2 separate regions of the Homo sapiens genome follow, and region 2 is linked to region 1. A link means that fine-mapping ties the variant in region 1 to the expression of a gene that starts in the linked region. Tissue or cell type: whole blood. Region 1 holds a variant in brackets; the other region holds the start of a gene. All regions are shown on one strand. Distances are from middle to middle.

Evidence for each region. PIP is the estimated chance that this variant, and not a neighbour inherited with it, causes the effect.
Region 2: RAB20 starts here. The variant in region 1 is fine-mapped to the expression of RAB20 in whole blood (TOPMed, PIP 0.97).

Annotation. Positions count from the first base shown.
Region 1 is chr13:110,527,833-110,535,935 of GRCh38, reverse strand. The region is part of intron 1 of RAB20 (RAB20, member RAS oncogene family); the gene reads left to right. Among named protein-coding and RNA genes, the nearest start is that of COL4A2-AS1, 24 kb to the right of the region's middle. RefSeq lists enhancers at 958-1,740, 4,562-5,178. The variant C/T (reference allele first, on the strand shown) is at 4,340.
Region 2 is chr13:110,557,464-110,565,546 of GRCh38, reverse strand. It overlaps RAB20 (RAB20, member RAS oncogene family), which reads left to right and starts at 3,825. Exons shown (of 2, transcript NM_017817.3): 1 at 3,825-4,199. The coding sequence starts at 4,028. RefSeq lists silencers at 3,696-4,145, 4,037-4,226, 4,206-4,265 and enhancers at 7,107-7,629, 7,630-8,083.

The DNA.
Region 1 (8,103 bases):
GACTTGAATGTATATTTTTGAACCCATAATAATACATTTATGATTCCATTTTTAAACAGAAAGTGCTGTTTCCTGCCCTCTGGTTCACCTTCAAGGAGAGAAATGAAATCCATTTCTGTGTTGGAAGGCCTTGCGCGGCCGGAGCTTTGGGTACTGCTGCTGGGCTGAGAGCATGGTGTGGTCCAGTGGGCGCTCAGAGGCGCTGGGCCAGCCACTGCGTGGAAGGCCTGGGCCCAGCGTGCCGGGTGTGTGCGGTGCTTCACGGCTGCCTGTGAAAAGTTAGTCACTGCACAGGCATTTAATGGAAGGGCCCAAGCTGTGAGGCACTCAGAGCAGGCAGGAGGAGGAGAGGTGGAATCTAGGGAATGGGTTCCAATCTCGCCAGTAGAGTCTCTGAGCCTTGACTTGTAGATCTGCGAAAATGGAAAACAGAGACTTCCCAGAGTGGTTTAAGGATCCATGAAGACGTGACCCACGAAGTGGTTGTATGAATTAGCCTCATGTGTTATTTATTCGTTTCTGTAACTTCACGCCTCCTTCATGCCTGTTCCAAGCAGCCCGTGAGTGTCTGCTGTGGTCCAGGAACTGTACCTGGTGTTCAGGGTGGGTTCGGGTTGGGGGTCTCCGGCTCTGAGCAGAGTCTGCTCTGTGCCATCCAGCATGGTAGCCACTGGCCACACGTGGCTTGGACTTAGAGATGTGGCTAGTTCTAGGTGAGATGTGTGCTTTTCAAAATGAGGAAGAATTCTGAATTTAAATTTCTCACTACATTCTCCATCTCTGCCAGTAAAAGATGTTCCTGGGCTGGGCGTGGTGGCTCAGGCCTGTAATCCCAGCACTTTAGAAGGGCAAAGCGGGGGGATCACTTGAGCTCAGGAGTTTGAGACCAGGCTGGGCAACTTAGTGAGACCTCATCTCTACTAAAAATTAAAAAATTAGCCAGGCGTGGTGGTACACACCTGTAGTCCCACCTGCTTGGGAGGCTGAGGTGGGAGGATCGCTTGAGCCCAGGAGGATGAGGTTGCAGTGAGCCATGATTGAGCCACTGCACTCCAGCCTGGGTGACAGAGCGAGACCCTGTCTCTGTTTCCACAAAAAAATATTGCTGGATATGTCTTCTGCTCTTCGTTTTGGAAATCATATTTTTCCTATTTTACTGTTTAGTTGCTGAACAGCTGGCAGGAGAGGACTTGTGCATTTATGATGAGGTCCAGTTTTGTGGAGTTCACACTCTTTTGAAGCCTGCTAGGAAGCCCCCTGGGGTGCACAGTAGAGGGTGTTCATATTGGATCAGCATTTGGAAAGATAACTGCCCGGGCAAGGAACCCTCAATGAAGAAGTGACCAGTTTGGGTCAAAGTGATCCTTGCAGTTTTCTGAAAAGCCCCTGTCATGCCACTTCCCCTGCCCTGGACATTTGTTTGGCTGAGGGGCAAGGCAGGGGTCGGGGCGTGGTCGGCACCCTTGACCGGCACACTCGTACATCACGGTGGCAGCACCTCTTTGTAGGGGCTCGGCCTCAGGGGACAGCCTGAAAATGGGGGAGCTGTACAGGCCTCTCTGGAGAGCCTCAGCTTTGCAGACAGCCTCCATCCCAGGGAAGCAAGTGAGCAGTCCACGTGAATAAGGCAGCCAGGCTTCCCCAGAGAAACAGACCTGACAGAGGGTGTGTGAGCTCAGGCAAGGTTGCTTTGTTGCTGTCTGGGGGCTGAATTCCTTCGTGTCTGGAAGAGCTCAGTCTTTACTTCTCAGGCCATCAGCTGATTAGACGAGGCCTACCACATCACAGAGCACTGTCTGCTTTCTCACATCCACTGATGTAAATGCTGATCCCACCTAAAAAACACCTTCCCAGCCATGTCCAGGCTAGTGCAGGACCAAACTGCTGGGCACCGGGGCCCGACCAGATACAGTTCCCCATCACGGTGGGTGGAGGCTGGCAAGCCATTGGCTCTCTGGAGGCTTTGGTGCATGTGGGTTCTGGGGGGAGGGCCTGCCCACTGCGTGGGGCCCTTGCCTGCTAGCTCTCCACTTTCCACGTACTGGTGGGGGCAGGTGTGTCCAGCCAGGCCCTGTGCTGGCTCCAGGCAGCCCAGCTCCATTCATGCACCCAGGGACTCTTGTGGGCCTTCCTTACTGCACTAAAATCAACAAACAATTGAATACAGTGTTGGTTATAGTAGTCAATTATTTATTCTTTTCTAATGCTCCTGAGGGGATGGTTGCTTCCACATCCCATTCTCTCTTTTTGAGATAGGGTCTTGCTCTGCTGCCCGGGCTAGAGTGCAGTGGCAGTATCCCAGCTCACTGCAGCCCAACCTCCTGGGCTTAAGCGATCCTCCTGCCTCAGCCTCCTCAGAGTAGCTGGGACTACAGGCACATACCATCATACCCAGCTCATTTTTAAATTTTTTTTTGTAGAGATAGGGACTCACTGTGTCACCCAGGCTGGTCTCAAACTCAGGGGCTCAAGGGATCCTCCCACATCAGCCTTCTGAAGTGCTAGGATTACAGGTATGAACCACTGTGCCTGGCCTCCACGCACCATTATTTAACCAAGTTCACTATCGGTTTTAAAAAAACAAACCTAGAGGGAATGTAGATCATGCCTGTGGAGATGGTCCCATGACTCTCAACTTTAGCCAAAACTCATCAACTTTACAAAATAGAACTAAAATAACCTTTTGGCTCGTATTTGTGGATGCAACCTGCAAACACTGGAGAAAGCATGTCGTGGTGTTTTTGAACAATCTCTGATGGGAAGTGTGTCACAGCTCCTCTAGGCTGCGCTGCTGCTGGTGCCATTGCTGGAGTTGCTTATTTTGCTCCCATCTCTGGTCTGGGAATATGCACTTTTCCTTTCCTCAGGTTGTCACATCGATGTTTTGTGAGCTCCCTGCCAGGGGGCTGTCCGATCTGGCAAGGCAGAGAACTCATCTTAAAAGTTTCTGTTCTCCGCTGGGCACAGTGGCTCATGCCTGTGACCCCAGCACTTTGGGAGGCCAAGTTGGGAATATAGCATGAACCCAGGAGTTCAAGACCAGCCTGGGTAGCATAGTAAGTCCCCATCTCTACACAAACATAAAAGAAATTAGCTGGGTGTAGTGGTATGCACCTGTGGTCCCAGCTACTCGGGAGGCTGAGTTGGGAGGAACACTTAAGCCCAGAAGATGGAGGCTGCATTGAGCCATGATCGTACCACTGCACTTCAGCCTGGGTGACAGAGCAAGACTCTGTCTCAAAAAAATAATAATTAAATAGGCTGGGCGTGGTGCCTCGCGCCTGTAATCCCAGCATTTTGGGAGTCCAAGGTGGGTGGATCACTTGAGGTCAGGAGTTTGAGACCAGCCTGGCCAACATGGTGAAACCCTGTCCCTACTAATAGTACAAAAATTAGCTGGGCTTGGTGGTGTGTGCCTGTAATCCCAGCTACTAGGGAGGCTTAGGCAGGAGAATTGCTTGAACCCTGGACGTGGAGTTTGCAGTGAGCTGAGATTGCATCACTGCACTCCAGCCTGGGCAACAGAGCAAGACTCTGTCTCAAGAAAAAGTAAATAAATAAATAATGAAAGTTCCTGTTGTCTCAGTGTTTGCATTTCCTGGTAGGGCTCACTTTTCAATGAATTGAAATACCAAGCTTTCTAATTCTTACATTTCAATAGCTGCCCTTTTATTTCCCACTTTCACTGGGTAAATTGCTGATTTTCACTCCTGGTGCACCTGGTATTCACCTGGGGCGCTTTTAAAGCTGATACAAATGCCAGCCCCACTCTTGCCCTGGCAGCTGGGTCAGGGTCTGAGCATCAGTATTTTTTAAGTCTCCCCACCCCATGCTTAAGATGTGAGCCAAGGGTGTCCGTGGCTTCTGATGGCTATCTCAACCCACTCTTATTTAAACCAATAGTGAAAACGACACAACACTTGGGGTAGAAGCCTGGCTGTGTTTGGCTTTGGGAAGGCTGAAGAGTGAAATGGAAAGCACTTGGGCAGTTTTTGGTTCCGCAACAGTGAATCAGGATTACTGTGGGTGCTGACTTCCCTTCCCCTTCTGCCTGAACCCTGGGCCATGTCAGCTCCACTGATCTGGCAACATCCGGAGCACCCCCAGGACCAGGGAGAAGGTCATCATCTGAGAATAAGAAACGTAGAAGATTGGTCCACTGCAAAAGCGCCCAGTCGGCCCCAGGAGGTGGTGTGTAAATGGAGGGATGATGAGACCCGGGACATGGGCAGCCCTGGGACGGTGGCATCCATCCTTAGGTTTGGGAGGAATCTCACGATTTATGGAACAAGCACTTCTATTACAGGGCCTAATGTGCTGGGTGCAGCTCCAGCCAGTT[C/T]ACCTGTGTGCAGATTCTGCTTTCTCAGCCACCCTTTGGCAGGTGTAACCCACATTTTAGTGACGGGGAAACTGAGGTACCGCATGTCTAAGTGACTTGCCCAAGGTCACACGGTGGGGATTTGAATGTAGTCTGTCTCTAGAGTGGGGGCTGTTTACCAGAACGCTCTGCAGTCCCTGCCCAGCGAATTAGCCGGCACTTCCAGGATAGTTCTCTGCGTAAAATTTGGAGCTCCTGGGAAGGTGGCTGCATTCTGCAAATGCCTGTGCTCTGTGGGATCACAGGGTGGAGGCAGGCTTTTCTCCTGCCCAGCAGCCCACCTCAAAGGGGCCCTAGGCCCCTTCCTCTGCCTCTGGGGGTGGTTAGACCAGACTCCCTGGGGTGCCTGTTGCCAGCGTGCTTCTCAGGGCTCCACCGCTCCTGTGTCTGTTGCCCACCTCCTTCTCCATCTGTGCCTCAGTTCCTCCTCCTGTAAAACATGGGAAAGGGAAGCCTGCACGAGCATAATAAACCCTGAGGACTCACACTGTGCTGGCCATGCTTCTTCCCATAGCTAATGCAGCGCTTCCTATCCTTGATACAGGACGGGATCGTGGAAGTTAACAGCTCATTCCCTGCTATAAATTACGAAGTCCTGTTCTGGCTTCCATTTCTCTTGTTTAGACAGAACTTAAACCTCATAAAGTGAGTGGAATTAGCTCTTTAGGTGAACAGACACAATTGTGTTTTTAGATCTGTAAATTCGAGAAACAAACCTGGTGGGACCTGCCTCCTGAGGGCCCTGTGTCTGTGTAGAGGTGGGGTGGGTGGGACCTACTTCCCCAGGGTCCTGTGTCTGTGTAGAGGTGGAGCGGGTGGGACCTACTTCCCTAGGGCCCTGTGTCTGCGTAGAGGTGGGGCGGGTGGGACCTACTTCCCCAGGGTCCTGTGTCTGTGTAGAGGTGGGGCGGGTGGGACCTACTTCCCCAGGGTCCTGTGTCTGTAGAGGTGGGGCGGGTGGGACCTACTTCCCCAGGGTCCTGTGTCTGTGTAGAGGTGGGGCGGGTGGGACCTACTTCCCCAGGGTCCTGTGTCTGTGTAGAGGTGGGGCGGGTGGGACCTACTTCCCCAGGGTCCTGTGTCTGTGTAGAGGTGGGGCGGGTGGGACCTACTTCCCTAGGGCCCTGTGTCTGCGTAGAGGTGGGGCGGGTGGGACCTGCCTCCCCGGGGCCCTGTGTCTGCGTAGAGGTGGGGCGGGTGGGACCTGCCTCCCCGGGGCCCTGTGTCTGCGTAGAGGTGGGGCGGGTGGGACCTGCCTCCCCGGGGCCCTGTGTCTGCGTAGAGGTGGGGCGGGTGGGACCTGCCTCCCCGGGGCCCTGTGTCTGCGTAGAGGTGGGGCGGGTGGGACCTGCCTCCCCGGGGCCCTGTGTCTGTGTAGAGGTGGGGTGGTGGGACCTGCCTCCCCGGGGCCCTGTGTCTGTGTAGAGGTGGGGTGGTGGGACCTGCCTCCCCAGGGCCCTGTCTGCAGTGAGCAGGGCGTCTTCATTTCTGGCTGCTCTGAACTCACGGTTAAAGTCCTGGTCAGTTTTGCTGCATTTCAGTAGTTTGTCCAACAGTGTGGCTGATCAGACATTGGAGGCGTTCTTACAGATTCAGGTTTCCCTCACCACCAGGGGTAATTGACCTCTTCGTCTGTATGTGTTGGTGACATAAAGCTGAGCAGATCACTTACGGATTTGCTACATAGACGAGTAATAATTCCTGGACAAGTCGAACCTAGAGCCCCAGGCTCCGGTCACTCACCCATCCTCCCGTCTGCTTGGCCTGGAGACAGCCCAGGCAAAAAGGCGGGAGAGTCTGGCGGAAGGCTGGGCTCCTTCCTCAGGCTTGAACCCGTGCCCCCAGCCCTGATGATGTCAGGCCCGTGTTGGTAGTGGCCACACAGGCTCGGCAGCCTGGCTCCGTTCACCAGACCAGGGTTGGCAGCTCACTGACCCTTGGCTGCATTGGTTGAATTTGAACCAATTTGTGATTTTTCTCTTTTGCCCTGTTTCTGGGGCAGCCTGGGGCTCTGGCATCCCCAGAATTGGACCTGAGGCTGTTTATTTCTCCAGGAAAGTCCAGGTAAACCACCAGAACTCTCAGTGCTTTGGCTTCACGATTGGTACTGACGGACTCCGGTCTGGGGGAGAAGGCAATAGAGATAGAGATGCCTGATCCTGTTTCCAGGGAGAGGGACTTTGAAGTACTCAGTTTAAGCCCATACTTGTAGACAGGAAATCAATATTCTGAGAGATACAGGGGCTGACATGTGTATGGGGTTGGCAGCAGGGGGCTGACGGCCCGGCTCAGAGCACATTCACAAACTTCCAGAAAACGCGTGAGGGTCCTTGGATTCAAATACACTGTGAATCTGTCAAAGCCAAGTGCAAAAGGTCAAGTTGTAGTGACACCATTTTATTTTCATTGTCTTATGTTCACTCTCATGCCTTACATACCAGAGCCCCTACTCAAATTCAATTAGGATTAAATTCAGAACTTCTGTTCCCTGCGGGACTGGCCCTTCTTGGTGTGGACAATGCGCTCATTGAGAGCAGCCTGACTCTTCCATTAGCAATCCTAAAAGCTATACATTATCTCCAAAGCAGTATTTTAGAATTTCAAATATGAAAACTGCTTGCTTGTAAATTCTTTAGCTGGGGCAACTGCATTTAATTGGTTTGCATTCATTAATGGGTAGATAACAGATTATAGGGTTCAAGCAACAATTCTTACTTTTTTCTGGCTAGCATTTGTGATTCTTCAGTTCCTGTTTCCTTTCATTACTAAGATCTTTCCTTTTATATTATTATTTCCTTTTTTAGTTTTTTAAAGGCAAATCAGGCATTTTTATCTGGAATGGAAAACTATTTTAGGCATAGGCATCAACACGGTTCTCCCTTTGGCCCTAGTGAACTATGTAACAGAGACTTGAAAACCATTCTTCCAGGGTAGCTGGAGTGCCCCTGACTCCGCATTCCCATAGTCACACTCTTGTGAAATCTGGTGGGTAGAAGCTGATGACGTTTTTAGCTCATGTAAAAACCTCATGATGCCTGGACTGTTATCTATGGGATTAGTGTCCCTGAAACAAAAGTCTTAGTACTGTGGTAATGACGAAGAAGCATTTTTCTTTCTTTTCTGTTTTTTGTTTTTTTTTTTTTTGAGATGGAGTTTCACTCTTGCCCAGGCTGGAGTGCAGTGGCGCTATCTCAGCTCACCGCAACCTCCGCCTCCCAGGTTCAAGCAGTTCTCCTGCCTCAGCCTCCCAAGTAGCTGGGATTATAGGCACATGCCACCATGCCTGGCTAATTTTGTATTTTTAGTAGAGATGGGTTTTCTCTGCGTTGGTCAGGCTGGTCTCGAACTCCCGAACTCAGGTGATCCGCCCACCCCGGCGTCCCAAAGTGCTGGGATTCCAGGCATGAGTCTCCGGCCTTTTTCTTTCCTTTATTATTACCATTTTAAATTTATTTTAGATATGGGGTCTCACTGTTGCTCAGGCTGGAGTGCAGTGGCATGATCATAGCTTATTGCAGCCTCGAACTCCTTGGCTCAAGCAGTCTTCCCTCCTCAGCCTCCCGAGTAGCTGGGACTACAGGCATGCGTCACCATGCCTGGCTAATTAAAGTGTATGTGTGTGTGTGTGTGTGTGTGTGTGTGTGTGTGTGTGTGTGTATTTGTAGAGATAGGAGCCTTGCTATGCTGCCCAAGCTGGGCTCCAACTCCTGGCCTCAAGCAATCCT
Region 2 (8,083 bases), 30 kb before region 1:
AGACCCTTAACCCTATACTACCTCCTTCCTCAACACTGCTTCCTGCAGGTGAATACGGTGATTTACAGCCTTTAAGACATTTTTATAAGGAGTGGCTGAAATTTGATATGGAGACATTCTCTTGGTTTAGTTTTCAAAGTGCTGGAAAATTCCTTTAACTTTTTCAACCAACTTGCTCGGTGAATTCCAGGTGCCAGTCACTGGGGTAGGTGCAGGGAACAGTCCCTCCCTCCACAAACTCTAAAAGCAGCAGTGTTTCAGGTGGTGTTTCAGTTCACTAGCGAATTTATTAAAATGTGTATTGATTGAGCATCAATTGCCTTCCAGGGCCAGGTACTTGGGAGACATAAGAGAAACAAAACACAAAGATTCCTGCCCTCATGAGGCTTCTTCAAACATTTACTGAGTAGAAGAATGTGCTGAGAAAGGGACAAGGCACTGGGTGAGGTGTTGAATGAGGTTAGGACCTGCTCCCTGACCCTAGGGAATTTTTAAATTACTAGAGATGATGAGAGTCAAATGAGTCCGTTAGTCATTGTCAGGGGCTAAACTGCATCGAAGAGGCCAGCAGGGTGGTAGAAACTCATATGAAGGAGCAGGAAAGGTCTCCCCAGAGGGAGAGGATTAGAAGGGGGTGTGCCTGGGCTGCACCTCATGGAATCCCTGAGTCCTGCACAGAATTCCAAACCTGCACAGATGAGGGGTTGGAGGGCTTTTCAAGTGGGCAAACTCAGTGAGCAATGAAGTGGAGAATAGCTGGTCATGATATGCTTACAGGATGTTGCTTCTGGCCTCACCAGGGAGGGGAATTCATTCATTCTTCTGCGACTCAGTGCCTTCTTCAGTGCCCATTGTGTGCTAGGTGCAGTGGTGTTCACCAGGCACAGTGGTGAACAACACAGAAGAAGCTGCTTCCCCATGGAGCTAACACCCTAGAGAAGGAAACTGCACCATCAAACCTGTAAATAAGCCACACACAGGGCAACAGGAGCTAAAGGAGGCGGGAGAGCTACTGTAAAAAGGGTGGTAAGTGTGTGTGTGTGTGTGTGGCGGGGGGCAGGATTTGGACTTGTGGAGATAGAAAGTAGGGAGCCGTGGCAGGTCTCTGGGTAGAGAAAGCAGTGGTTATGAAAGGTTAGTCTGACAGTGATTGGGACGGCAGGAGCTTGGAGTTAAGGAGACCAAATAGGAGTGGATTCTAACTATTTAGGTGTAAGAAGGTTCCAGACAAGTGGGCGTCTGTGGGAAAAGAGAGAGAAGATGTTAGAGGGATTTATTTAGAAGGGAAAATCCATTGGGCTTGGTGATGAATTGGATATGGTTATAAAGAAGGTGAAAGAATGAATGACTCTGCATTTACAGAAGGGCAGATGAACGATGTGGTGGGTTGCCATATTGAGACATCCATGTAGAAAGGCTTAGTAGGTGGATGAAGAAATGGACAAAGAGCTCAGGTGAGAGAAGCAGACAGGGGGTAAAATTTGGAGAATCAAAAAGCATGCTCCAGGAAGTGATTAAACTTCCTGATGGTAAAAAAGTAGAAAGAAGTGTAAAAATTCTAGGTGAGCCTTGAACACCCGCTGAATAAATGGAGAGGTATACCATGTTCATAAATGGGACATTTTAATATTATAAAGATATCCACTCTTCCTAAATTTAACTATATATGTCATTAATGTGTTTCCTGAGGTTAGATACATTGATTCCAGAATTCATATGGAAGTGTAAATGTTCCAGAATAGTCAAAGCAACTTTGGACTAGGACTACAGGTGCACACCACCATGCATGGCAAATTTTTTCTGTAATTTTCATAGAGACGGGGGTCTCCCTATGTTGCCAGGCTAATCTTGAACTCCTGGGCTCAAAGGATCCATCTGCCTCGGCCTCTCAGAGTGGTGGGATTACAGGTGTGTGCCACTGCGCCTGGCCAACAGGCACCAAACCTGACTCATGTTTGTGTCGTCCCAGGCCAGGCACTGTAGCTTGTGTGAAAATTGTCAGAATCGAAATGGAGCCGCTAATGTTAAGAAAACCCTGACAAACAGAGCCGGGGAAGGCCATGAAGAGAGGGTTCTTGCGCGTGCATGCCTGATAACAAAAAGGACTCTCTGGAAAAACCGCAACCTTGCACAAAGGCCACTGCAATCTCCCACAAAAAACTAGTCCTGCAAGGACATGGCCCAGCCACTGGCTGTCCTACTTTGAACTGGCATCGCCTTCGTTATGGATCTTTGTAGCCACAGATAATTATTTTCAAACAATTGTGCAATCCGCCTCATTTTTTTTAAAGCCTTTGCTTTCCTTGCCTCTCTGAATATGCACAAGTTTACCATGGCATGCATATTTCTACTGCAAAGCTCTATTGCAAAATAAATATCTGTTTCTTTTAGAGATCCTCTCTGTTATTTAGGTTGTCACTTGCATGCAACAGGCATTGAATAAATGCTGAATTGACTTAAATTTGTTCTGAGGATGAGGCAGTGCTGGCTGAGAAGGAGCCGGGGTCTCCTGGTGCGCTTTCCACGCCCCAGAAGGTCCGCTTCCACCTCAGCCCCACACTGCTCGGTCTCAGCAACCTGACATGCCAGGGCTGAGCAGGTACGAAATACCTTGGCATTCCTGCCTTGTCGGAGTCTCAGGGCACCTACGAAGGAGGCAACGGGCCTATTTCCCTTTACAGGACACCTTCAGGACACGGGTTTTAACCTGCTCAGGGTCTCATCGCCTTTCCCAGCCAGGCCAGCGGCCAGAGTGACACTGTCCCCCAGGGTTTAACTTAGAGTCCATTCTACCTCTCATTTTCTCTAAAAAACCCCAACCAACCAACTAACCAAATTCTACACGCTGCATATTTTAAAAGCATTTCAAGGTTTATCCTTTAAAACGGAAGGAGGACCTGGGAGGCCGAAGCGGGTGGATCACGAGGTCAGGAGTTCGAGACCAGCCTGGCCAACATGGTGAAACCCCGTGTCTACTAAAAATACAAAAATTAGCCGGGCATGGTGGCACATACCTGTAATCCCGCCTACTCGGGAGGCTGAGGCAGGAGAATCGCTTGAAACCGGAAGGCGGAGGTTGCAGTGAGCCGAGATCGCGCACTGCTCTCCAGCTTGGGCAACAACAGCAAAACTCCGTGTCAAAAATAAAAAAAAAAAAAAAAAAAGAAGGAGGAAATATTTCTCAAGTAGCGACTGCAACTTCCATAGTCAAATTTTCATTCCAAGCTATAAATGGAGATGACTGTCCACTTTTCAGGACAAAAAGCTTCTTGCAAAAGTAGAAGAGCAAAAGCAAAATCCTCCACTAGAAAGCGCCCCCATCTCTAATCTGTAACAGTGAGAGCCTCAGGACGAGTTCCGCAGACGCTCATTTAAAGCAAACTTTTTCAATGACCTTGAGGGTGGCTGTACTTACACGCGGAGAAGCAAATCGACCGCAGCTGGAAAGGCGCTGGGTCGAGCGTGAGAGGAACACGGGTTTTACCTAAGGGAGAGTGGAAGAGAGAAGGGGGTTCCCCAAGGGCCCCGGCCCCTTCGCCTCGTTCGGGCCCCGCGGCCAAGCTCCTCGCACCGCAGCCCCGGCTGTGCAGAAGCGGAGGGGCGGAAGGTGCTCTCAGAACTTTCATTTTCCACCCTGCAGCAGTCCCGAGCCTCGGCTGGAGAACTCGGATGCTTGCGAAACGGCGAGGTCCAGCAGGGGCGGGACGGGGGCGGTGGGCGGAGGAGGATAGGGCGGGGCCGCGGCGGTGAAAGGGCCCGGGGGCGGGGGCGGGGGCGGGGCGAGGCGAGGCCGCCGCGGTCCGGGCCCCCGACGTGGGCTCCGTGCTCTGCACCCAGCTCCTTCCCGGGCGCGCACACGCGCTTCCTCTCTTGAGCTCCCGGGCGTCCGGAGGCGAAGGTCCCGGAGCGTTCACGAGAATCCGGGTCCCGGCGAGTCCGGGGTCCGCTCCTCCAGCTGCGCCCAGGGCGCACGAGCCGGCCAGCCTCGGGGAGAGGGCGCGGGGGCGCTGGGGGTTCTTACGGGAAGATGAGGAAGCCCGACAGCAAGATCGTGCTCCTGGGGGACATGAACGTGGGGAAGACGTCGCTGCTGCAGCGGTATATGGAGCGGCGCTTCCCGGACACGGTCAGCACGGTGGGCGGCGCCTTCTACCTGAAGCAGTGGCGCTCCTACAACATCTCCATCTGGGACACCGCAGGTGAGGCCGGCGCCGCATGAGCCACACCGCCCTGGGGCTCCGCCGGGGACGGGGGGCGCGGGGCTTCCAGCAGGGCACCCGGCCGCGCACAGGGTCCCGGCCTCGGACAGCAAATGCCTCCTTCTCGGGGTTTCCCACTCGTCCTCCCTTGCTGGTTGGGCTGAGCGCTGCCTCTCAGCCACTCAGTGACCTCAGGGACAACCCAAGTTGCAGAGAACCCGCTGGTCATTTGTGTACCTAAGCTGCCTTTGCTCCCGAGCCCCGCGTTCCTGCTCTGCCGCCCTGGGAACCAGAGACGCTCCTCTGTGGCTGCTTTGTTAGGTATTTTCAGTTTTCACGTACCCGTAGGAACATGATATCCTTTGAGATTCACTTGAGGGGTGAGCAGAGCTGGTGTTATTAGCCCCTTTCTAAGAAAAAGTAAAATGAGGCACAGAGTGTTCCCCCCTGTTGGGTTTAGTCAGGAGAGAGGAAATAAAACTGGAGCCTCCGGACCTCTTAGCCCGGAGCATATCTGCCTTTTACAGTTAATCTTCTGCTTGATCTTGGCTCAGATACGTCATATGGGTTTGGGTTGGAGTGACTTCCGGTGGAAGCATTTTTAAGATAGGTAATGAGTTATTTTTATTGTGTAGTATTTGTGACTTTTCAAAAGTACAACTTAGAGGATCTCAATTCAGGCTTTCTGTTTAACTTTGGAAAATAACACTGGTGATTGTAGCATTGCAATGGAATATATTTCCTTCTCCTTACAAAAGAATAAGATATTGTAAGTGAATGAAGAAACTGGAAATAGTGTGACACATTTTCAATGAGTGTGAGTTTTTAGAAGCCTGAAACTCTGAAAGTTCTGACTTCTTTTATGTTAGCATCTTAAAAAGTCATATACCCAAAGGCCCCGTCCAGAATTCTTAAATTGCCATCTTGGGTGTATCAGTATGCTGAATAAACAAGATGATAATGAATTCTCTCTTTAAAACTGAATTAACGAAGCTCACAGAGGTACTTCCAGTTCTCCCCCTCCCTTTTGCCTTCTTTGATGCTTTTTTATTATTATCCCAGTTAACATCGTGACTAATTTATTGGCAATCATCTTGTGAAAACAATGTCCCCCAGGTAAAGAGGTGCATTTCCCTGATCTTTGCTCCAACTCTGTCTTCTGCCTCAGGCTGCAGGATGAGGTTTACTGAGCTGACTCCCTCACACTGAGCATTTGGTAACGATGGAACACACGCTCTAGAAGTCAAATCGAACCCAATTCACGAACCCAATTTGCTTCTGTACAAAGTCAAATTGAACCCAATTTGGTTTTGTACAAAGCTTTGCCCCTCTGCTGCTTTTGCTGGTTGGCTGGGATTTACTGCTGCCCTTGGTTTACAAGTAGCAAGGTTAATGCAGGAGTGTTATTGGGGGACCCTAACCGAAACCCCTGTAGTGGCCACCGTTGGAGGCAGACTCTTAACACACGGTGTGTTTCTGGAACAAGAGCTGCCCTGCAGTGCTGGAACGGCCCCTGCATCGGAGGGAATGAAGCAGCAGTTTCGTTTCCACTGGCCTCTTGCTTCTTCAGCACCAAGGACGTGATGCAGCCGGAATCCTGATCACCAGAGATTTTGCAGTTGTGCTGATGTGACGCCCCAGATGTCTTGAAGCGTTACTGGGGGGCAGCAGCTCATTTCCTGGCATCCGAGGCTGCTGCTGCTTGTTCGAAAGATCCTAAGGGTGAATTACTAGAGCTCCTCAGAACAGAGAGTGGCCAGGCCCCTTCTCCACATTCCTGACTTCCTGTGTACACACTCAGGCGGCCCTTGCCCAGAGTTGGCAGGGACACAGGGCACCCTTGCCTGCCTCCTCGGTGGCCTGTGGCCTGACCGGGTACTTGAAGGGAAAAGAGAGGTAGGAACAGATACCTTTTCTATAATTGTTGGAAATTCAGAATTTAACATTTAGGGGACCCTGTTCTTTTCCTTCTTTTGCTGAGCTCCTAAACTTTCTCTCCACCCCACAGACATTGCTTTTCAAGTTGTTTTTGTTGTAATTGTCATAACCGAGGCAGAATGGTAAGGACCAGCCGGAGGAGGAACCATTTTGAAAGTTGCTTTTAGCCACACAAGGCAGGGTGGGCTGGGGTGGGGGTGCAGGTGTGCAGAGGGCGACAGGATGTTTAATAGTAAAAACGATTGCATGGGGGTCAGTGTACACCCAATGCCTGGCTGCTTGTAGCCTGCAAGGCAGGCAGTGGATGGAGCTGAAGAGGGGGAAGAGAGTTGGCAGGGCAGAAGTACATTACCCTATTCCATTGACACAACAGTCCTCCAGAGGGAGGTGTGATTATTTGCATGTTAAAGATGGGGCCAGGCGTGGTGGCTCATGCCTGTAATCCCAGCACTTTGGGAGGCTGAGGTGGGTGGATCACGAGGTCAAGAGATCAAGACCATCCTGGCTAACATGGTGAAACCCCATCTCTACTAAACATACAAAAGTTAGCAGGGCGTGGTGGCGCACACCTGTAGTCCCAGCTACTCGGGAGGCTGAGGCAGGAGAATCGCTTGAACCAGGAGGCAGAGGTTGCAGTGAGCCAAGATTGTGCCACTGCACTCCAACCCGGTGACAGAGCGAGACTCTGTCTCAAAAAAAAAAAAAAAAAAAAAAACAGATGGGAAGACAGGGCTGCGCGGTGGCTCATGCCTGTAATCCCAGCACTTTAGGAGGGTGAGGCGGGCAGATCACCTAAGGTCAGGAGTTCAAGACCAGCCTGGTTAATGTGGTGAACCCGTGTCTACTAAAAATACAAAAATTAGCTGGGTGTGGTGGCTGGCGCCTGTAATCCTAGCTACTTGGGAGGCTGTGGCAGGAGAATCGCTTGAACCCTGGAGGCGGAGGTTGCAGTGAGCCAAGATTGCGCCATTGCACTCCAGCCTGGGTGACAAGAGTAAGACTCTGTCTCAAAAAAAAAAAAAAAAAAAAGTGGGAAGACAGCAGAAGTTAAGTGGGATTTAGACCTTGGTTCATCCAACTCCAACTCACCTTGTCTCATTATGCCCTTTTAGGGGGCACTTGCCACTCCCAGCCCTTGTCTAATTGGGCACACAGATGTGGAGTGGTTGCTGTGCATGGGTGGGTACATCCAGGAAGCAAAAGGAGGTTGCCCAGCGAGGAGGCAGAGCCCTAGAAGACGTACTGCTGTGCTCCTCTGTGTTGCCCGGTTGCTCAGGACAGCCTAAAGTGGTGTTGCCTGTTGTTGGCAAATATAAACTGAGGCTCCCCGGTGCCGGGCACTGTTTGGGCCCTCGTTCTACAGCAGTGAGCAGGCCGGCTGGCCGCTGCCCCGCAGGCCCTGGATTCCAGAGGAGGGGGAAAGGCAGGCAAGAAGTGAATGGTACAGCTTCACATCTGATCGTTGCTCTGAAGAAAATACGACAGGCTGATGAGAAAGCGGCTGGTGTGCCCAGCACAGACCTGGTCCCCAGAGCCCTGGAGACAGAATGCTCTCCACATTTGTTTTCCTTCCCTTCTAAAGGCCGTGGCCTGGCGGCCGGGAGGCGGGGGGAGCAGGGGCATTACCTGACTCACGTTTGCATCCCCAGCACCTGGCCCTTGAAGAGCCAGCTTGGAAGGCGGCGGGGAGCCCAGACTTGCGCCACTTCCCTGTGCCGGCATCCAGCTCCAGCTGCGTCTCTGGGGACTGGGTGTTGGAGAGAGTGAGTGCATTTTGCATGTGGAATGGATGCACGTCTGTGGGAGCCTGAAGCCAGGCTGTGACAGACAGAATAGTGGCCACCGCAAAGATGAGACATCTTGGTCTCTTGAGAGTCCTCTGGCCTTTGGGTCCTTCTGAGGCACCAGCAGAAGGTTATGTGGCCACACCAGGGCCTCCTCTCCAG